Homo sapiens: one gene and its partners. The protein of the gene in region 2 interacts with the protein of the main gene of each other region in a pairwise test. Each region holds a gene or a part of one and is shown on either strand. Other genes may lie near its edges. The genes, in order: ZNF620, CDCA7L, TRIM42, TNNI1, PBX2, NOL12 and ZNF438.

The links.
Region 1: the proteins of CDCA7L (region 2) and ZNF620 interact in binary tests that used the Homo sapiens proteins (3 or more experiments, as listed by UniProt).
Region 3: the proteins of CDCA7L (region 2) and TRIM42 interact in binary tests that used the Homo sapiens proteins (3 or more experiments, as listed by UniProt).
Region 4: the proteins of CDCA7L (region 2) and TNNI1 interact in binary tests that used the Homo sapiens proteins (3 or more experiments, as listed by UniProt).
Region 5: the proteins of CDCA7L (region 2) and PBX2 interact in binary tests that used the Homo sapiens proteins (3 or more experiments, as listed by UniProt).
Region 6: the proteins of CDCA7L (region 2) and NOL12 interact in binary tests that used the Homo sapiens proteins (3 or more experiments, as listed by UniProt).
Region 7: the proteins of CDCA7L (region 2) and ZNF438 interact in binary tests that used the Homo sapiens proteins (3 or more experiments, as listed by UniProt).

The regions. Positions count from the first base shown.
Region 1 is NC_000003.12:40,509,039-40,512,538, forward strand, and holds part of ZNF620 (zinc finger protein 620), read left to right. Parts: intron 1-2,431; coding exon 2,432-2,558; intron 2,559-3,363; coding exon 3,364-3,477; intron 3,478-3,500. UniProt on the Homo sapiens protein: May be involved in transcriptional regulation.
Region 2 is NC_000007.14:21,904,400-21,907,899, reverse strand, and holds part of CDCA7L (cell division cycle-associated 7-like protein), read left to right. Parts: intron 1-1,260; coding exon 1,261-1,332; intron 1,333-1,443; coding exon 1,444-1,611; intron 1,612-2,268; coding exon 2,269-2,394; intron 2,395-3,500. UniProt on the Homo sapiens protein: Plays a role in transcriptional regulation as a repressor that inhibits monoamine oxidase A (MAOA) activity and gene expression by binding to the promoter.
Region 3 is NC_000003.12:140,684,564-140,688,063, forward strand, and holds part of TRIM42 (tripartite motif-containing protein 42), read left to right. Parts: intron 1-3,158; coding exon 3,159-3,500.
Region 4 is NC_000001.11:201,404,731-201,408,230, reverse strand, and holds part of TNNI1 (troponin I, slow skeletal muscle), read left to right. Parts: 3' UTR 1-3,500. UniProt on the Homo sapiens protein: Troponin I is the inhibitory subunit of troponin, the thin filament regulatory complex which confers calcium-sensitivity to striated muscle actomyosin ATPase activity.
Region 5 is NC_000006.12:32,184,233-32,187,202, forward strand, and holds the end of PBX2 (pre-B-cell leukemia transcription factor 2), read right to left. Parts: intron 2,670-2,970; coding exon 2,581-2,669; intron 2,459-2,580; coding exon 2,372-2,458; intron 2,243-2,371; coding exon 2,150-2,242; 3' UTR 501-2,149; downstream 1-500. UniProt on the Homo sapiens protein: Transcriptional activator that binds the sequence 5'-ATCAATCAA-3'. Activates transcription of PF4 in complex with MEIS1.
Region 6 is NC_000022.11:37,691,659-37,693,974, forward strand, and holds the end of NOL12 (nucleolar protein 12), read left to right. Parts: 3' UTR 1-1,816; downstream 1,817-2,316. UniProt on the Homo sapiens protein: Multifunctional RNA binding protein that plays a role in RNA metabolism and DNA maintenance. Participates in the resolution of DNA stress and the maintenance of genome integrity by localizing to sites of DNA insults.
Region 7 is NC_000010.11:30,844,132-30,846,865, reverse strand, and holds the end of ZNF438 (zinc finger protein 438), read left to right. Parts: intron 1-1,292; coding exon 1,293-1,905; 3' UTR 1,906-2,234; downstream 2,235-2,734. UniProt on the Homo sapiens protein: Isoform 1 acts as a transcriptional repressor.

The DNA of each region.
Region 1 (3,500 bases), on a different chromosome or scaffold from region 2:
TTAAGCAGATAGTAGGTTCTTATTTGCTTAAAAGTCCAATATGACAATGTTTGCCTTTTGGGATGTTTAGATTATTTACATTTGATACCATTATTGATATGGCTGGATCTGGGCCTGTCATCTTTCTACTTGTTTTGTAATGGTCCCATCTGTTCTTTGTTTCCTTTTATTCTCTTTTTCTATTTTCTTTCTTTTCTTTTTTTTCTTTTGTTTGAGACAGAGTCACTGTGTCACCCAGGCTGGAGTGCAATGGTATGATCTCGGCTCATTGCAATTTCTGCTTTCTGGGTTCAAGCGATTCTTGTGTCCAGCCTCCCACGTAGCTGGGATTATAGGCACACACCACCATGCCTGGCACATTTTTTGTATTTTTAGTAGAGATGGAGTTTCATCATGTTGGCCAGGCTGGTCTCGAACTCTTGGCCTCGAGTGATCTGCCCACCTCAGCTTCTCAAAGGGCTGGGATTACATGCATGAGCCACCGTGCCTGGCTCTTTTTTTTCCTATTTTCCATAGGATTAATGGTGTGTAAATATCAGGCATCGTTCTTTTCAGTCTTTCCAAATGATCCTTTCTCTGGCCTTGGTTAGTTTTCCCACACCCATGTACTGATCTGTATTTTGTTGAATACTCTAAAGGGACCTTCTGCTGATAATTGAGATTCCATCTCTATGCAGCCCTCTCCTCTCTGGCATTCTGTCCTATAAACTCAAGCTGCCTTGGTCTCTTCAGACTCTACAAGGAAATATGCCAGGTTCTGCCTCAGTTCCCCCTTCCTGTGTTGCAGCCTGGAAATTCCTCAGGGTAGTAGCTTAGGGAATTATAGGGCTCACTTCTTTTCTTTCCTGTTTCTCAGGGATTGTTGTCGTTTTTTGCATGATATCTTGAAAATTGTTTTATATAATTTGTCTGGTTATTTTGTTTCAGGCAGGAGGGGAAATCCAGCCCCTGTGATTCCACCTAGATAAGAACTGGAAGTTTTCCCTTAGCATTTTTTTTTTTTTGAGACAGTCCCACTGTCACCCATGCCAGAGTACAGTAGCACGATCACGGCTCACTGTAGCCTCAACCTCCCCTAGGCTCAGGTGATCCTCCCACCTCAGTCTCCCGAGTAGCTGGGAGCACCACCTTGCATGGCTAATTTTTGCATATTTTGTAGAGACGGGGTTTCACCATGTTGCCCAGGCTGGTCTCGAACTTCTGAGCTGAAGCAATCTTCTCACCTTGGCCTCCCAAGGGGCTGGGATTACAGGTGTAATCTGTAATCCCTGCATTTTCAAAAACATTACCCTTTTACTTTTGGTGTTTAGTCTGTTGCCATCTCGACTTCCCAGTCTTCGTGTGTGTTGTTTTTCCTTCTCTGAAAGCCTGTAGGATCTGTTGTGTATTCTCATTTTTCTGAGATGTCTCAGTTACATGCCTATGTGTAGATATTTTTCATTCATTGTCCTAAATACTTTGTTGGTCCTTCCTTCTCTATGTTGCTTTTAAGGAGATAGAATATTTTACCAAGTTATAAACAACAGTGCACATTTACAAAATCCTTAGCTCATCCTTAGTTCTGTGGTGTGAATTGGGCCCCTTTTTGTTTGCTTCCCCTTCTGCCAGAAGTTGAGTTTCATCTTTGTCTGCTTTTCTAGTCTAGTTATCATTCATTCTCTTTCTGCCTTCTAAAATTCTGTTTATACCTCTAGTTGGCTTTGATTCTTCTCTCTCTCTCTTTTTTTTGAGACAGGGTCTCACTCTGTCACCCAGGCTGGCGTACAGTGGTGCAAACACAGCTCACTGCAGCCTCGACCTCCCCGAGCTCAGGTGATCCTCCCATCTCAACCTCCCAGGTAGCTGGGACTACAGGCATGCACCACCACACTTGGCGAATTTTTGTATTTTTTGTAGAGACGGGATTTCACCCTGTTGGCAACATCGCCAGGCTGGTCTCAAGCCATCCGCCTGCCTTGGCCTCCCAAAGTGCTAGGATTACAGGCGTGAGCCACTGTGCCCAGCCTGCTTTGACTCTTCTCTTGGGCTATTATGTTACTATCACTTTAATGGGGTTAGGGAGAGAGTGAAGATCAGTACAAAAGTGTTATTCACTGTGTTTATACAGATGTCCCCTGTGCATGTGCACACAAAACCCACACTGGGGAAAGGAGCCCAGAGGAACAGATGGGCACACAGAGCAGGGCACAGTGGAGGCAAGCAGAGATCAGCAGATGAAAATAGAGCTGTTTGCTGGGGATGACCACAAAGGGGTGCAATGACCCTTGGACTCCCCTGTTGGTGCGGGCAAAGATGGCTGAGGGCTGGCCTCATGGTGGAGTGCTGGATAACTGTCCTTGGCAATACCACTAGACCCAGTAGATCTCTGCCCCACTACTTAGCCTGATCCTCTGCCCTCACACAGGGTTTGAGCAGGAACTTGTTGTTTTAGGAACCAGTGACCTTTGAGGATGTGGCTGTGTACTTCACCCAGAATGAATGGGCCAGCCTGGACTCTGTGCAGAGGGCCCTGTACAGGGAAGTGATGCTGGAGAATTATGCAAATGTGGCTTCCCTGGGTAAGACATTTCTTCTTGTTTTTGGCCTCTGCCCTTTAAGCATCCTGGCTTCTTTATTCCTTAGAACTTTGTGGGGTTTTTTTCTTTTTTTCTTTTTTTTTTGAGACAAGAGTCTCCCTCTGTCGCCCAGGCTGGAGTGCAATGGCGCAATCTCGGCTCACTACAACCTCCACCTCCCAGGTTCAAGCGATTCTTCTGCCTCAGCCTCCAAAGTAGCTGGGATTACAGGTGGGCGCCACCACACCCGGCTAATTATTGTATTTTTAGTAGAGATGGGGTTTCTCCATGTTGGCCAGGCTGGTCTCGAACTCCTGGCCTCAAGCGATCCTCCTGCCTCAGCCTCCCAAAGTGCTGGGAAGACATGTGTGAGCCACCGCTCCTGGCAGGAGAACTTTGTGGGGTTTCTAATAACTCTCTGTTGCCCTGAAGGCTGAGCTGCCTGGAAGTTTCTGGGTGGAGAGAGCCCTGCGTTCCCAGGTTTTGAAATCACCTGTCCCTCCAACCCTGGGAGGGGCTGTACCCAAAACATGGGGGGGAAAGGAGCTCTTGGGAGCACAGCAAAGCCCCTTGTGTCTTCCAAGTTCTCTGAAGAAAACTTGAGATTCCCTTATGTGAGCGTGGGATTATTCTGGGACTCTGTGCCACTTTGTGGGAAATTTCTGTCCTCCAGCAGCATAGATTAAGTTTCTCCCTGACTCACCTTGTCTCTCACTACCTGGCTCAGCAGATAAAGATAAAGGGGGCTGCAAGAGGATCCTGGTTCCTGATTCCCCTTACCTTTTCCTGTTTCTTTCTCCCTGGGCAGCATTCCCATTCACCACGCCTGTTCTGGTCTCCCAGCTGGAGCAAGGGGAACTGCCATGGGGCCTCGATCCCTGGGAACCTATGGGCAGGGAGGCTCTCAGAGGTATCTGTCCAGGTGAGCATGAGAACCCACTAGCT
Region 2 (3,500 bases):
CTACATGGTGCCATAATGCTGCTTACTGTTGACCAAGCTAAGTTCTAAGTATATAGTTGTGTTGGGGATGAGAGGGGCTGAACAACTAGCCCGTTCCCAGCAGAGTAAAGCAGGGGAAGTGGGATGTCACCAAGTCCACTGAGAAGTTGCAAGGAGCAGGTTGGGCAGGTAGCTTTTCACCACAGAACCACTCTTCTATGGTGACCAGCACTGGTTCTGAGACTTCTGAAGGAATGGAAGAGGTCTAGGAATTAAAACAACCTCAACAGTGTTAATTCACTCTACATTGTCTTCATTAGAACAATGAATGGAACCAGGTGAAATCTTTGTTACATATATTTGGTTTTTCTGTATATAATCAATTACTGTTAATCTGATCATTGTAGAGAATCATTGTTTGCTTCATAATTGTTTATCTACAGTTTTTTTTTAAATAGTTCTACCACTTATCCCTTTTAGCATTTTGGTAATTTTTTAATCTTTTCCTTTTAAAAAAAGAATGATGCAGTGATACTGTATATGCAAGCTTATATGTCTAATATAAATTACTTACAAAAATGGAATGCCTACTTTCGGATTATTTTTATCCTAAGAAACATTTTTACTTAGCTAAGGGAAATTTTCAGCACTGTATCCATCTGCATCTTTAAAATAAGCTATTTTCTTTATGATTTTTTTGGTGGCACTCATATAATTGTATAAACTAAAACGAATCCTAATTAAATTCTCTGGCATATTAATGCCTATTATTTGGTATTATTAGTTCACGTAGGAATATCTTCATAGATTACTTTGATTGATGAGAAATTAATCTATTTAAAGAATCAGACTTTTGGAGTTCTAAATAACCATCGAAATAATCTAGTTGAGCTTTTTCTTTTTTGAACATCCTGAAACTTGAGACTCACGTGTGCAAAATGAATTGTCCCAGGGTCACACCGCCTTGGATTAGCCTCCGAGTCGGGATCGGAACCTCATGCTCCAGGTCTTGATCATTCCAGGACTGTTTTCATAGTGTTGTGTTGTCCTTATATATAAGGAATAGGCTAGTGTTCATTCATATGAATGATGACATCAGCATCTCAGGTCTGGAGGTACAATCTTTACATGTGAGGTTAAAAGTATAACTGTTGTGGGTTATATAAACTATTCAAGTTAGGTTTCTTATGGTGGCAAAATGGAAGACTTGAGATAGGTGTTGGATGACCTAAACCTGGAGCCCTATTTTTGTAAGATTCTTTCTTTTGTTCTGAACTTCAGCTTGCCCAGTTATTGGCGGAATTGAACTCGATGCCAGATTTCTTCCCAGTACGAACCCCAACCTCAGCTTCTGTAAGTAGAACTCCTTATAATTATACCAATACTGATATATGGTGATCAGCCACCAGACGGCTTTTATTCGAGAGAGTCCCCAGTTGTCTCTGTCTGTGCTCTTGATTTCAGAGGAAGAAGACAGTGAGGCGGGCCTTCTCGGAGGGACAGATCACGCGGCGTATGAACCCAACCCGGAGTGCGCGGCCTCCTGAGAAGTTTGCTCTAGAGAACTTCACTGTCTCAGCCGCTAAATTTGCGGAAGAGTTTTACAGCTTCCGAAGAAGGAAGACAATTGGGGTATTTTCTGACTAATACATGAATTAGTTTTTGTCTGAGCTACCATCCCTCCAAACGTGAACGCACGTCACTGTCACCCCAGGGCTGGTTCTGACCCCGTGGGTCTGCGGCAGCTGAGAACTTGCATTTCTCTCTGCTTCCCAGGTGATGCCATTGCTCCTGAGATCACACTTTGAGAAGCAGCCCTGGTCTAAGCTGGAGGTCACAGAGAGAGTCTTTTATCCAAGCCGAGCTGAGAAGCAGCTCATTTGTTAGGACCCTGCTTTAATCTCTGCTGCAGGCAATAAAGAAAAGTGCAGTGATTCCTCCTTGCCTTTCTGTTTTAGGCATGAGGCGTTTCAAGCGCTTTCAGTTTGGAGGGAGCAACTGTGGACCCATTTGTGGGTTTGGCTGTTCAGTGTGGTTCACCTCTCCACAGAGTTTACAGCAAAGAACCAAAAACCTTGAGTTCCTCCTTTATGATTGTATCGCCTTGCTGAGAAGGAAGCTTGGCAGGTGGCAGGAGCTCAGTAAATAACTAAATGAAATGGCTGCAGGGAAATAGAAGAGGGACGGGGTTAACATTAATGGTGCTAGATCTTTGAGAGTTTAAAATATTTATAATTTTTTTATAACTGCTCAACACATCTCCATGTTCTGCTTGTGTTCATTGTGCAGGGGAAATGCCGGGAGTACAGACGACGTCACCGTATATCTTCTTTTCGGCCAGTGGAGGATATCACCGAAGAGGACTTAGAAAATGTTGCCATAACTGTTCGAGATAAAATCTATGATAAAGTTCTGGTAAAGTATACATTAATTGTCATTCTTATTGGGAGTCGAAGGCATTGGTATTGAAATCTCACTTGTTTTTAAACTCTATCAGGGCTTATGCCATCTCACCAAGGGCTCAGAGCCAGGCTCTGAATTGGAGGGTCAAAAGTCAGCTGTACCTGGGAAAGGGGAGGCAGCCTAGTGCAGTAATTCCCATCTGGACGGCGGTCTCTCTTAGGGATGCGTAGAATCTGGGGGAAGGGAACGGTATAGTTTAAAAGGGATTTTTATATGTAACTGTTAATGGTTTAAGCATATAGTTTTATGTTCTAAATATTGAAAAAAGTATATTTGGGGGGTAATATAACCATAGAAATTAAAGTTTGGCAGAATATCTTTGGTAGGAAATGGGTTAAATTTCTTCTAAATGGTGATTTAGAGGGAGGCTTTGCGTTCTGCATTTTTTTTGTGTTTTTCTGGATATGTAACGGGACACTGTCAAGTTTTAAATTTAGTTGCCAATATTTAAAAAAAAATAGATCTCACATTGAAGGTATCCAGGTCTGCAGAGCTAGGCTGGGGCCGAGGTGATGCCACCCAAGGCTCATTGCCCCTCAGTCACCTGTCACCTTTCAGGGGCTCTGCCACCCCTGCCTCAAGCTTTTCTCTGGTCTCTCTTCCTGACAGCCTGATCATTTCATTCCTTCTGGGTCTCTGCTCAGCCTCATCTGACCTAATATGTTTCTCTGGCCACAGACCTGTGATGGTTACATTCTAGAGCAGTGGTCCCCAACCTTTTTGGCACCAGGGACTGGTTTTGTGAAAGACAGTTTTTCCATGGATTTGGGGGGCAGGAAGGGGATGGTTTCAGGATGAAACTGTTCCACCTCAGATCATCGGGCATTAGATTCTTATAAAGGGTGCACAACCTAGATCCCTCACATGTGCAATTCACAATAGAGGGTTTGTGCTCCTATGAGAATCTAATGCTGCTGCTGATCTGACAGGAGGCAGAGCTCAGGCGGTAATGCTCGCCCGTCCGCTGCTCACTTCCTGCTGTGCAGCCCGGTTCCAAACAGGCCACAGACTGGTTCTAGCCTGGGGGCTGGGGACCCCGGTCTAGAGACAATGCTGTG
Region 3 (3,500 bases), on a different chromosome or scaffold from region 2:
TTTGCTAATGACCACATCACCCCGGACCTCTCAGTAGCTTCAGGAATACCTTAATTTTTCTCAATGGCCACATACCTGGAAACCTTGCTTGTCAATTGACATTTATTTAATTTTGGAACCACCACCAGGGAAGACTTCATATTAAAGGAACCCTGCAGGAACCACATTACCAAGAAAATGGTAGAACTGTTGGTTCCAAAAGGGTTTTCTGAAGGTGGGACTCACTGCCTCCCTAGGCCAGGGCTTGGCTGGATTCTTTGGGTCCTCAGCATGGTGAAGGCACTGCCGCCTACAACCTACTGTGCCTTCCATCCCTCTGTAGAGAACCTCGTCCTTAATACAGGAGAAACTTAGGATAGTTTTCTGAGTCCAGGGCACCTAAAATTTGAGCAGACAACAAAGCTCAATTCAAGGTGGGGGGAAAATGCCTGTCCAAATTCCAGGAAACCCAGCAGTTGGAAAGGGAAAAAGGGATAATTGGTAAATTAGATATTAGCTGTAAGTAAAGAATTTAACCTTTCATCCTTGCTGAAGAAACAGACACACAAAAATTTTTTAACCAGGGTTCAAACTTGTTCGTGAGCATTTGATTCACTTTTCTGGGAGGTACCATAAATTGGCATTCTAAACAGATCTCCAGGTTATTCAAAAGCAAGTGATCTGGGAATACACATTGAGAAACTGGGGGACCTAGGGAGAAGATCCATTCTAGAAGCTTTACTAAAAACTGATGCCCCTGTCCCATCCACATAGAGGTGCAGGCTCAGCAAGATGGAATTTTAAAAAACTCCTCATGTGATTCTATGGTGCAGCCAAGGTCGAGAACCACTGAAATAAAGGGAGCTCAAAAGTTTAGGTCCCTGCCACTCAAAGTATGGTTCAAGGACCAGTAGCATTGGCATCACCTGAGAGCTTGTTAGAAATGCAGAATCTCAGGACCCACCCCAGGCCTAGTGCATCAGAATCTGCATCTTTATCATGATCCCAGGAGATTCTCTGGGTTCGATTCTAAACCTCACTGAAAACTGCCTCACCTGGCTTCCTGAGCCCCAACACAGGCCCATTGATTCAGAATCTTAGCAGATGAGTCCAAGAGAAGAGTTTTTTTTTAACACTCTCTCAGGTTATTCTGGTACTCAGAGAGGGCTGAGAGCCACAGCTGAAGCAATTAAGAACCTAGTTTGGAGCTAGACAAATAGAATTAGGGACAGAGCCTAGTTTCTCCCATTTACCTGATGTGTAACACTATACAGTCACTTAACTTCCCAGGGCCTCAAGCTTTTTCATCTATAAGTGGAAACAATATCTTCATTGTAAGAAGATATATGTGATAGATAAAAACATATGGATCTGGTCCATAAAAAGTGTTTAATAAATAACAACTAGTTTTAAGTGTATTGCCTAAAAGAGACCTTGATTTGACTTTGCTTTAAAATCAGCTCTTGCAGAGGTTTCATATTTGCAGAGGTTTGGGGTGGGACATTTGTGGCTTCCTCTGTCTTTTTTCTCCTCCTGGAGATGCCTTTTTCCTCTCATCTAAGAAATTTTTATCCTGCTTCTCAGGACTTTGCTCTACATAAGCCTAATCAATCCCTAATACAGCAAGAAATTTCCTATCCAAGTATCTTTAACAGTAGGTAACTATTGAATAGTCAAAGAAAATAATGCGCAAAGTAGAATTCTGGCTGCCACAGTCACAGTGCATTGGGGAAGGCAAGAAGCACTTCTCAGCACTGAAATCGGACCCTGGTAGTTTCCCTTTCAGTCTCACCTGCATCACCTCATCTTTTCTGAGCCAGTGTGAGGAAGGAGGTGGCAAGAAAACACTGGGGCTTCAGGGAGTTAGCCAGAGAGTGACACTGCTGGCATTCACCAATGAGTTGTTAGAAGACAGGAAAGAATGGCTTTTACTCAACAAATACATTTGCTCACCTCTACACACCATAGTCATAGTGGTAATGTGGTCCCTGTTCTCATGATCTGACAGAACACTAGGGTTTCCCATATTCAAGTGCACACCCTTGTTACAACGACCACCACTCACAGAAGTCCAGCTTCCTATGAACCCAGGATAATGTTATGAACCAAGTGCAAAAATAGCTAGTCATCCCCACTCCTGAGTAAAATTTGGTAAGGATTATTGCCCATCAATTCACTGAAGAGTTTACCTTTCATGAGAAGAACCTTACCCGTAGCATAGACCACAGAAGGGTGACATTCTTCAAATTGCTCCTTAATGCCTCAAATCCTTTAAAGCTAACAAAGGTATTCATTTCACCTTTCATATAAAGCTCATTTCACAGATAGAGATGTGCCACGTGCTTACCCTGCCATAGCATCCTTAAACTGTAGTATCTTTGGATTTATTCATACCTTGAGCACAGATGCCCTCTCATAATCATATCCATATTCTTAGTGCCTAAAAGATACATGGCATGTAACAGGGCTCCAGTAAATGTTTGTTGAATGACTGAGTGAACTTAAAATCCAAATGCCATATGAGGGGACACAGGGTAAACTGGTTTTCCTTGAAGTGTGACAGCAGACTCTTTTTTGAAAGGAGTGGGGGAAAGGCAAGGAGAAGTGACATAGCTGAACCACAAGAGGGACAAAGGGGGGAAAAGGGCATCTAAGAGAGCCACCTCAATGAAGGGAAGCTTTGCTGATTTCCCACTGTTGTATAGGGCTGGAGGCTTAGCGAATGATGCAAGACAACCTTTAGAAGTAGTCGGCAGAAACTTAGTTCTTCCTCTTACCACTGCAAAAGCTTAGGTTTCCTACAGGGAAAAGCAGGCACCAGTCATTTTGTGACTTCACCTCTTCTCAAGTCCAACTTGCAGACAACTGAAATCTGGTAAAAACCAATATCAAGGGTGGGCTTGAACTTCCAGTCTCAGACTCAAGGCCATAGGGATTACTGTTACAAGATAGAAATATCCCAGAGAAGGATCAGAGGGGGAAGAAGGGGAAGGGTGTACTAAGGAGGACCAAATTCATTTCATAAACCTATTCCAGCCTGTTTCAGCCCAACTACAAGTGCCTTCCCTCCCTCTTCATTCACCTCCTTGGAGCCTAGGGTAATTTGTTCTAGTTTGCTACTGACTTTGACACCTGGGGAGATGAAAATTTTAAAAGTAACTAACTTGGCATTTTTGCAGTCCGATATGAAATTGATAATGACCTAATGGAATTCAACATCTTAAAAAACAGCTTTAAAGCTGACAAGGAGGCAAAGCGAAAAGAGATCAGAAATGGCTTTCTCAAGTTGCGCAGCATTCTTCAGGAGAAAGAGAAGATCATCATGGAGCAGATAGAGAATCTAGAAGTGTCCAGGCAGAAGGAAATTGAAAAATATGTGTATGTTACAACCATGAAAGTGAACGAGATGGATGGTCTGATCGCCTACTCCAAGGAAGCCCTGAAGGAGACTGGCCAGGTGGCATTCCTGCAGTCAGCCAAGATCCTGGTGGACCAGATCGAGGACGGCATCCAGACCACCT
Region 4 (3,500 bases), on a different chromosome or scaffold from region 2:
TCCTCTGGATCAGGTCCTTTCTCCATCCCACTACCTCCTGGGTCCAAAGCCTGGTGAGAGCATAGGGCCTTCTGGGGTGGAAGGGGGGTCTGGGGCAGCCTCTCTTCCCCCAACATACTCACTAGAGTGGCTCCTGTGAAGCAGAGACCAAAGTTCTGACTTTTCTTTTTCCTTTTTTTTTTTTTTTTGAGATGGAGTCTCGCTGTGTCACCCAGGCTGGAGTGCAGTGACGCGATCTCGACTCACTGCAACCTCCGCCTCCCAGGTTCAAGCGATTCTCCTGCTTCAACCTCCTGAGTAGCTGGGATTACAGGTGCGTGCCACCACACCCCGCTAATTTTTGTATTTTTAGTAGAGACAGGGTTTCACCATGTTGGTCAGGCTGGTCTCGAACTCCTGACCTCGTAATCTGCCCACCTCGGCCTCCCAAAGTTCTGGGATTACAGGTGTGAGCGACCACATCCGGTCAAGTTCTGACTTTTCAGGGCAGTGGGATGGTGACTTCTGAGCTAAGCCTGCAAGGGAAGTGGCTGTTCCCAGACCTGGGGTCCCTTGGCTTTTCGACCACCCTAGCACTGGCCCTAGGAGGGGCTGAGTTATCAGAGCAGCAACCCTTCTACCCACCCTACTGAGTCCCCATTCTACCTTCGAATCCCATGTATTATCTTCCATAAGTGCCAGAAATTGGTACAAAGTGCAGTGCCAGCTGCTCCCCAGGGCATGGTCTGGCTCTCTGGGCTGCTGGGCTGCCAGCCCCTTTCAGAAAGCATGGCAGTGGGAACCAGCAACTTGGGCTACCTTAGGGGAAGCAGCACTCTGCCCAGGGTTCTTGCTATAAATAGGTCAGTGGGCAGAGAGGCAGATGTGTGCAAAAAGCACAACCCCAATCACACACAGAAACCCGTAGGCACGGACACACCCAGTCTCAATGCACGAAGTTGGAGAACCTGACAGGGCTGGTCCAGGCCACAGAGGATGGGGTTAGGCTTCATGCCTTCATGCCCAGGCAGCCACAGAAACCCACTCTTCCCCGCCTCACAGGGCTCCTCCGGTTGGCCTGGATCCAAAGCGATCTCCTTGTTTCACCTCTTTCCAGCTCTTCCCTAGAGCCTGGCCCCAAGTTCCAGAGTCAAATCCCAGTTTTGCAGTCAACTATTAACCTGGGGCCCTGGCAGATTGGGGTATCCACCCAGTCATGTAAAGGCAGGAGACCTGCTCTGGGCCTGACTCAAAGCAAACACGTGGGTGCAGAAGACCCATGGGAGGAGGAGGTGGGGCCCACTCAACACACCTAAGCCAGTGGCCCTCTAGGAGGGGCAGAAGAGCCAACCAGAGGGTTCCTGGAGGTCATCGGGTTCCTCCTTCTGCTTCCAGGCAGCAACAGACCTAATTCATCTCCTGTGAGGATGGAGCAAGGGCGAATATAGGCATAGACATATCTGGAGCGCAAGGATTGAGAGGCCCTGTGGACAAGGGGAAGGAGAGCTTGGGGGTGGGAGAGGGATCTATGGAAGGGGCTGTTGTAGCCAAGAATGGGGCCTGGGCTGGGGGCCTGGCCTCTGGAGAGCCCTGATTCTACTCCAGTCTTCTCTCACCATGGAGACAACACCAGTAGAGCTGGGAGCTGGGGCCTGCCACTGAGTAACAGCTCACACATGTAGCACACTTATGCGTCAGGCACCAGCATGTACACCTTAATTTATTTAACTTTCACAACAACCCTAGGAGAAAGGTACAGCTACTATTCTCATGGTACAGTGGGGAAAACTGAGGCACAGAGAGGTTAGGGACTTTTCATGATCACACAGCTAATAAGTGGTGGTCCCAGGATTCAACCCAAGAAGTCTGTTAGAATCCATACTCTTATCGACTATTTTAATAACAGCATTTCAATAATAGTAATATGTGATGTTAAATGCTTTATCTGAGTTATATCATTGCATTCTCACAAAAATGGTACATTTGTTAGCTCAAATTTACAGATGAGGAAATGGAGGCCTGGAGAGTTCAAGTAGCTCACTCTAAGTTACAGGGTTTGCTAGCTGCAGACTGGAGACTAGATCTCAGGTCACTCTGCCTTGGGGTTGCCCTTTTCTGAGATCAGACTGGCCTTAACAGAGCCCAACTTTCTTGGAAGGACACAGCTGGGGGTCGAGGGTCCTGCATATGCACCTGGGGAGTCCCCACACACCCGCACCAAAGGGGAAACATTCAAAGGAGATGCAGGTGACATACAGATGGGCTAAGGTGAGGCCTTCCTCCAACATGGGGCCCTGGCTGAGAGTGGAGGGATAGGGTGCTACTTGGGGGATATCTATTACTAATCAGCACACAATAGCTGGGTGGGCACCCCCTCTCTCTGCAGCTGGTGGAGATGGGCCTGGTGCTCCTCTCTGCTTGGTAGGAATGACCAGGGCAGGATGCCACCTGCTACACTCTTGCCTGTCCCAGAGCCCTTGGGAGACCAGCTGTTGCTCCCACCTTTCCCCACAGGGTGCCCGGTCCCCACGGCGCAAGGAGGCCAAGCTCAGCTGTGTGTCTGAGCCCACTCAGCAGCAGGCATGATCAGGGCAGGGCCCAGCGCTAAGGGCTGCTGGGGCTAAAGTGCCTTGCTGAAGGAGGGGCAGAGTTAAACATTAGCCACAATGGCCCCCCGCGAAGTGAGTCATACTCCCCACAAGTCTCTGGGCTGGGCAGCCGGGGGCGGGGGGGTTAGCTTCGTTCCAGGTGGGTGACCAAGCTGCGGAAGCCCAGGACAGTTCGCTGGGACCAGTGCTAATGGCAGCTTCTGCTCCTGACCCCCATCAGGTCTCTTTCCTCAGACATCCCCAAAGCTTGTCTGCCTGTGGGTCTTTCATTAAAGGTGACGGGCAAGGGTTTTCTCTTCCTTCCAAGACACACTTCTAGGCTGGCTTGTGGGTCCCCTGAGACGAAGGCTGAGCAGGGTGAGCCTCGAAAACCCCATAGCACTGGCCCAGAGCACTGCGGTCAATGTCCGAAGGACCAGAGAGGGAGGGTGACTTGCTCAAGGTCACAAACCTAACTGGAGCTAGGAAGTAGGTCCCCAGACTCCCAGTCTGAGGAAATTGGATGTGGACAGGGCTTTGGTCTCCTGGCCAGAGGCAAACGCCCAGGGATCTGAACAGGCTGCCCATCTCTGGCCTCAACTCAGCACCCCAACTGGCTCCAGTGCCAACCATTGGCCTCTCTCACTGGTTGGCACAGGCTGGGTGAGCCTGGCCCTTTGCCCTGGGTTCAGGAGAGAGGTATGGCTTTGCCTGGCAGTCAGGGGAGGTGTTCCAACCTGGGAGCCCCTGGGGGAGGAGCGTGTGTGTGAACGCTTGTGCCTGTTCATCAGAAGGGGTGAGCATGGTGTGTATGCGTGGGCATGCAGAATGCAGGGTGATGACCTGTCTGCCCGCCCTGAGTGTCACAGACACCTGTGTGTCCCCTGTACTAGTGCCTCCCAGATGCTCTTCTCCTGACTGGCTCTTTGTGAC
Region 5 (2,970 bases), on a different chromosome or scaffold from region 2:
TCCAGGGTCCTGGCTCTGTCTGCCCCTCTCCCTGCTGTGGCCTCCGCCCTAGGTGGGGCCTGCACCCTCTCTCCAGCCCCCATCTTTCAGTCGTCTTGTCACAGGGAATGCTAGGAATTCATGCCTTTGGGACAAGAGTCCTTCAGGTACTAGAGAAATAATTATCACCCCACCCCTGGGTACTACCAGCCTCTGGGTACAGTCACTTCCCTGGGGGATGGGGAGTGTACCCTCTAGGGTCTCATTCCCTCAGAGCCCCCGATCCTATTTATTCCATCAGTCCATCAGGGCTGCCTGGTGACCCACTGGAGCCCCATCTTGATTGCGCAAAGTTGCATCAATAGGGTTCAGGCCAGACTGTTGTCTGCAAGGGTGCAATTGGGCCTGCATCATGAAGGCAAGGCTGGGGAACAGGAGAGAAACCTGTTTGGAACTTCGTGAAAGAAAATCATTTTTTTTCTGGGGTTTCTCATGTTTTTTGAAAAAAATTCTCAACTAAACCCAGGGAAAAAAGAAATTTCTTTATTTAAAACTGCATTTTGTTTTTTTTCTGTGAAACTACACAAGTTTACAAGTGAGGAGAGAACTGCCCCCGGCCCATGCCTCCCACCCCCCCACCCATCACACTTCCAACCTGTCCCCAGTCCTGCCCGGATCTTTAATGGGAGGGGTTCCCCACTCTGACAGTCTTGTAAAATCCTGAGAATGTCTGAGGGGATCAGATGGTAGCTAGTTCAGGGCTGAGGATGGGACAGTGTTGATGTTACTTTTCCCCCACATCTGGCTTTTTGCAACCTCCTCCCTCTCCCTACCCCTTGATTTTGGTGTGACAAAAAGATACCTCATTTATGGGGAAATTGAGGAAGATACATATACAAGCACCCCAACCCATATTTAACATATTTGGCAATAACTCCCTTCCCATTCTTCCCCCTCCAATTTTCAAATAGTAGTTTTTTAAAAAATTAAAGACATGTCACTCACAGGGGAAGATGGCATCTTCAATTTCCTCAAAATTACTGAGTCCAGCCCTGCCCAAGGGTTGTGGGAAGAAGGGGGATGAGAGGCCAGCAGGGCAAGCCCTTCACTGCCTCCACATCAAATGCGGCAGAAACCTGCCTGCATGAACAAAGAACACCTAAGGGATTTTAGGGGGCAAAGCTTGGTGCCCTGTAAAATTTACTTCCTGATGGACAGGCCTGGAGCCAGGGGGGCCTCTTTACCAGTTCTGTTTGTCCCCCTTTCTCTTACCAGAACCCCTTTGGCTATCACCCCTAATATGGGAAAGTAAGAAATAAAAAAAAAAAAAGACAAGAAATCAACATATTTATAAAAAAAAAAACAAGCTACTTCCCCAAACTAAATTAAAAATTAAGAACCACCACCACCACCACCACCAACAACAACAAAAACAACAACAACAACAAAAAAAACAGATGGATCCCAGGGTTTCTTTTTCTTTCTTTAAAAAAAAAAAAGTTCAACCCCAAAGCCCAGTCAATAATTCCCTAAAGTAGCAGAAACTCCCTCCGAGGTAGATATCTGAGTCAGACACTCTCGTCCACCGAGCGATTCTATTGGTTTAAGATGAGCTGCGTATGAGGTAAGTAAGCCGTCCGGAGGGGCGGGGGTGGGGATGCATGGGGGCGTGGCCCATGTCCTCTGTCCAGAAGTCATGTCCCCATTTTTGGCATCTCTGATTGGGCAGGGCTGGCGTCTCCACAGATTCCAGAGCATACAAGTGGGGTGGGGAAGGGAAAGTGGGGGAGCCCAGGAGAGAAACAGAATAGTTGCAAGTGGGAGTATGTGTGTGTGAGGTGTGGGAGAGGGAGAGAGAAAGACAGAGGAGAAAAAGGGGTCTGAGAAATAGGTTTCTCGGTATGTGTATGTTTCTGTGTAAGAAAGAAAGCGAGAGAGGAAAAAGATGGAAAAAAGGGAGAGACAGACCCCACACTCCCCTTAGAGGCCCCATTCTTCCTGCCATGTAATTAGCACCCCCAGCACAGAGAGTCTCGTTAGGGAGGGGATGACCCCATTGGCCCTTCTCTGTCTTGTGCTTCTCCTGTATTGGGGTTTGTCCTCTGGAAGCCTGCGTCCTCTTCAAGTCGCCTTGTGAGAGCCCCCACCCCTGTGACCCTGAGGGGCAAGATCAGTTGGAGGTATCAGAGTGAACACTCCCTGGTCCCTCCGTTGGGGATGTCACTGAAGAGGGGGTCACAGCCTCTTGCCAGCTGCCATTTGCCTGAAAGGAGAGACAGAGTACAGAAAACAGAGAAAGCCCTGGGAACCCTGTGTGGGCACAACATTACTAGGGAAAATGCCCCTCTGTCCTGTGAGAACTGGACAGAGAGGAGCTTCAGGATCCACTCACCCTCATTTCCCGTGGGCTGTACATCTGGCCTCCCCCGAGGTTATCCCCATAGCCCCCTGGCCCCATCGAGTGTCGGAGTGATTCCACCTGCAGGCAGCAGAGGAAGGTATGACAGTGAAGAGAAGCCTCAGAGGAAAGAGGTCTTGTATCCTAAAGTAGAGGAAATGGAGTTGGGGAAAGCCCTATTCGAGAGGAGATGGGCATCTGACCTGGGAAGCAGAATAGGAATCTCCGTTGAGCCCAGGCATCCCCAGAAACATGTCTCCAGATCCTGAGAGATTGAAAGAGCCGCCAGAGCCTTGTGGGGGCAGAGAGGGAAGAGTGTAATAGAGCCCGTGATGGTAGAGGATGAACCACAACTCTCAACTCTTGTGGGGACATGCTACTATACTCCAATTATCCACAAAATAACATTCCAACACACAGAAAGAGCAGGCTGTTCCTTGGCCACCCGTGGGAAGAAAGGCAGAACTAAGATCACTGGAATGGCCTCTGTCCCCTGACATCTCCAGCCTATCTCAGCTCGGTCCCTCTCACCCCAAAAGGCCCCCTCTCTGCTATGATCCTGCCTAGATAGGAAGTGGGAACAAAAGCAGGAA
Region 6 (2,316 bases), on a different chromosome or scaffold from region 2:
ACCACGCACAAGGGCAGGTTTTTGGGGTGGTGGAAATGGCCAGGGCCCATGGGTCTGTCTCCAGCAGTTAGCCCTGTGGCTGCAATAAAGTACAGTTCTCCCTGTGTTAAGATCCTAACCAGGGTTAAGGATCAGTGTGTCCGTTGCTAGAATCCAGAGCCCACCTGCTGCTCTGAAAAGCAGGCTCCTGAGGCCAGTGGGGGAGCAGTGCCCCCCATGCCCTTCACCGAGGAGCCTCTGTGCCTGTCCCTTGTCCTCGGCCCCAGGAGTCTCCTCAACTGACACTGAAGTGGTGGAAGCAGTTGAGTGCCAGGTCATCCCCCATCACCACACTGGGGCAGCGTCCCCAGGCTTCCAGCAGCTCCCAGGTGGGTCCCAACGTGGAAGGATTAATTAATTCTTTCTAAAGCAGTTGCAGCCGGGCTTGGTGGCTCACGCCTGTAATCCCAGCACTTTGGGAGGCCCAGGCGGGCAGATCACTTAAGGTCGGGAGCTCGAGACCAGCCTGGCCAACATGGTGAAACCCTGTCTCTACTAAAAATGCAAAAATTAGCCAGGTGTGGTGGCACACGCGTGTAATCCCAGCTACTTGGGAGGCTGAGGTGGAAGAATCACTTGAACCCTGGAGGCGGAGGCTGCAGTGAGCCGAGATCACGCCATTGCACTCCAGCCTGGGCAACGTTGTGACCTTGTCTCAAAAAAAAACTAAAAAATAAAGCAGTTGCATCTTGACTCGTACAAAAGTAGCCCCCACCAGAGTAGACCCTGCGGGTGCCAGCTAGAACTCCACAAGGGGCCATGTCTTCACACTCCTTCCAGATGGATGAGTTGATGGAAACCCTGTCCCTTCCTTGTCCCAGCTTGTCAGTCCTGGGCAGGAGAGAATTTCAGGTTGTGCCTTGGTTAGAGGAGCTGTGTTGGGTCCTAAACACTAGGACCACAAAGGGGAGTGAACTGTGTTCCCAGGGCTTGCTGACGCCCGTGGACTATGGAGTCAGGATGACAGGACAGTGCGGTGAGGGGCATCTGCGACAGGACTGCGGGCTCTACCCGCCCTGATGTGGGAGCTCCTGGAGTGGGGGTGAGCAGTGAGCCAGGGTCTGCAGGGCTGTCCTCTCTCCACAGCCAACAGCCAGGCCTTACAGTGGGGCAGGCTTAGTGACTGTGCCTCAGTTATGCTGTACCTGGGAGTGGGCAGGCCCTCTCCCATGTCACCATCAAAACCCACTGATGAAGGCTGGTGGGAGTCTGAGGGCTGCACCCGGGTATGGTGAGTTCCCCTCAGGGATTGTGCTGAGCGCCTTGGCCTGGCTTCTTGGCTCCGCCCACCTGCTCTCCCTGCCACCAAGTTGTCTTCCCCGGGTGGCATGTGCCACTTGGCTGCCTCGTGCCTGGGCACAGTGGTGCCTATTATGGGCCCTCCAGGTGGCTCTGGTGCTCAGCCTGCTGTGAGCAGGAACAGCTGAGTCCCAGGGGTTCTTGCACACAGCAGGGCTCGGGTTTGAATCCAGGCTCTGCTGCTTGGTCGCTGCATGAGCTTCTGCTGTGCTGACCTCTCTGGTTTGTCTCGTCATGTGTAAGGTGACACCAGATACCTACCTCTTAGGGCTGCCCCGAGACTAAAATAAGACCATGTGCATGAACCACTTACCAAAGTGCCTGTTGCTCTCCAGGTGTGCCTACCGCATGTTGCCGCTGCTGTTTCTGCTGGGACGTCTGACTCCAGTTCCTTCTCCCCTCTCCAGTGACAAGGTCATTTACAACTTACATTTACAATTTATAGTGTTTACCAGTATTAAATTCTCAGCCACTCCTTTCCATGTGTGCCTTCATTTCTTCCAGCAGACCAGGGAAGTTGAGTCACAGTGATTTGACCAATTCTAGGATCAGGGTGGTGGATTCAGAGCCCTCTGGAGAACTTGTCTTTTCTCCAGGAGCCCCTCACCATTGCTGTGGAGGCACCTGGGCTCCTTCCTCCTGTCGCTTTCCAGAGTTGGGCCTCTGAGAGATGTATGAGGAAGAGTTAAGTTTAGCTGCATATACTCTAAAACAAAATTGAAAAACAACTGGCTTGTGTAAAAGAGTTCCCATCCCAAAGATGGGAGGTTCCCAGCCTGGAGCTGGGAAGGCTGGAGGCTGGGATGCCGGGCTTCTAACTCTATGCTGTGTTCTATGTTGTGTGCCATTTTCAACACATGGCCCCTGCCTCACAGCACAAGGTGGCTGCTTGAGCTGCAGCCATTATGTCTGCATTTCAGCCAGCAGGACAGAAAAGGGGATGAAGAACATGCCCCTCCTTTTGAAAACATTTAGGGC
Region 7 (2,734 bases), on a different chromosome or scaffold from region 2:
TGCTGACAGCAGGGAGAAGCCAGGCAGCAGGAGCAGGTGCTTCTTGAGCCCGTGGGGGGAAAGGGGCCTTCCTGGACCCCTGAGAGTGCAGAGATGCCTGGATCTGCAGCCACAGCAGGGTAGCTACAGTGATGCCTGGGAGGGCAGGAGCGCTCCTGCCTGCTCCCAGCTTCCAAGAGCACAGGGGTGCCTGGGTCACAGCTGCAGCTTGGGCAGCTGCAGGCAGTTGTGCCTGGTAAGCTCCCACACCGTCAACTTGGAAAGGGCAGGGCTCGTGCTTGTCCCCAGCTCCCACTGGCTCCATGAAGTGTGGCACCACCCCTGGCCCAGCTCTGCCTCAGGGCCCCTCTCTACCCACTCCTGCATGCCCTAGTGTGCTGTTTTCCCCTGCCAGCAGGTGACTCAGCCTGGCCCCATCGCAGTGGCTCTCATGGCGGCAGGTTTCAGGGACTGCCCACCTCCTCTCCATGTTTTCCCAGCAGCAACAGCAGGCAAGGTGCAGGTGGTGCAGTGGCCCTGGCCAACCCTGCACAAATGAACCTGACACTCTCAGGACTAGCCCCACAAGTCCCGGCTGCACCTTCAGCTGGGTGCTCACTGGCTCCTTTCTGAATATGAAATCTTCTCCTCTTCCCCAAATGAAAACAGACGCTCTTGCCAAATGTAGTTTGGACATTGTACCTAAAAATCAAAATCTAACTCTAGGAAAAGAAGGAAGAAGTGAGGTTTCATGGTTCATTAGTGAAAGGCACAGAGGTCTTAAAGGGGACAGAAATGTCTAAGAAAAAGGAGAAACTCTAGAAAAGCAAGGAAGAAATAGGGTAGGCACCCTTTATTTTTACTGAACATGACAGAGTGAGCCAAAATTGAATAGAAGGTATTGGTGCTCAAGGTTAGGGAGAGCCACAGTGGGTAGGGTGGGACCGTTACCTTCAACAGAACCGAGGGTGTTCCCGTGCCCTTCACGCGCTCTTACGTGACTCTTCCACGTGATTGCTCCTGTCCCTGTGGTAACCAAAGACGAGTTAGCTCGCCTGGGACAGATGCGTGAAGAGGACTGTTGACTAAATGAACCCTGGTAGCTGGAGAAATGTGTGGCCACAAGCAGGAGTGACAATTAGTATTCACCACGGTCCTTGCAGAAGGTCTTCCCAGGTGCTCTCTGTTTACCCCAGCCCTTGTCTTTCTCGTCAGTGTTATGTTTTAGATCCCTGAAGGCTGACAGCTGAGAGGAAAGATTCCAATTGCATTTTTCCATGAAATCTTATCTTCATTATTATTGGCCTTTTCAGGGAAAACAAGTCCAACCTGGAAGAAGACTTCCTTCTAAACCAGGCAGACGAAGTCAAATTACAAATCAAATGTGGTCGTTGTCAGATTACTGCTCAGTCTTTTGCGGAAATAAAATTTCATTTACTTGATGTTCATGGAGAGGAAATTGAGGGCAGGCTACAAGAAGGGACCTTCCCAGGAAGCAAGGGGACTCAGGAAGAGTTGGTGCAGCACGCTAGCCCCGACTGGAAAAGGCATCCTGAGAGAGGGAAGCCGGAGAAGGTTCATTCCTCCTCCGAGGAATCACATGCATGTCCAAGACTGAAAAGGCAGCTCCACCTTCATCAGAATGGCGTGGAAATGCTCATGGAAAATGAAGGACCCCAGTCAGGAACCAACAAGCCAAGGGAAACCTGCCAGGGCCCTGAGTGTCCTGGCCTCCACACGTTTCTCTTGTGGTCCCATTCAGGCTTTAACTGCCTGCTTTGTGCAGAGATGCTGGGACGGAAAGAGGACCTCCTCCACCACTGGAAGCACCAGCATAACTGTGAGGACCCTTCCAAACTGTGGGCTATTTTAAATACGGTCTCCAACCAGGGAGTGATCGAACTTTCCAGTGAAGCTGAGAAATGAGACCCCAAGGCAGCCTGGGGTTAAGGAGAGAGCTCTGCCGCCACCTTCCTTCAGAGCTTCGTGCTTTATGGTGGTGCTTAGTCACAAAGATCAAACAACAGGATTGGTGTGAGTGAACAGAAATGATTTTTGTACATGGTTTTATTTTCTTAACGAAATAAAATATAAGCTCTCGAAGCATATTTTTCTAACTATATGCAGTCTTATTTTAAAATACGTACTGATTCTTAATATCTTAGACTTTCAGAATAAATAAAAAGATCAAAATTTGAAGATTGAAATTTAGCAGAATATAGGCTGTTCTTCAAATACAGCTCTCAGTGAAAACATGCATGTGTCCTTCCTTTTGTTCAGATGTTTTCTGCTTATATAGATTGACAAATGTCAAAAATGTCCAGGCAGCAAAACCCTTTTAATCTCAACCATAGTATCAAGTTAGATGGTAAATGCTGATATTTATTAAATTCTCTGGTTTATTTGAATATGATATAGAGCAGTATTTTAATAAGATTGTCATCTACAATAATTTAAAATCCATGTTTTCAGGACTCAGATTTTTGTTTCTTGTAATTTTGCTATTTTCTTAAATGCACATTTCATTGAAGATTAGTTGTTGGCAAGTCTTATAGCTGTAGTGTTCCATATCAAAATAATTTTTTAAAAAATTTAGTACTTCAGCTAATAAAAAGTCTACTTGCTTGGTAAAAAGTTATTTTCAAGTAGTCTTTGGGACCAGAAAATTTACAACCTGGAAAATGAACTAGATAGTTCAGTCCAGATGTGTAGGGGTCTCAACTGCTTTCCCTCACTCCCAAGTAACTTCAGAGGG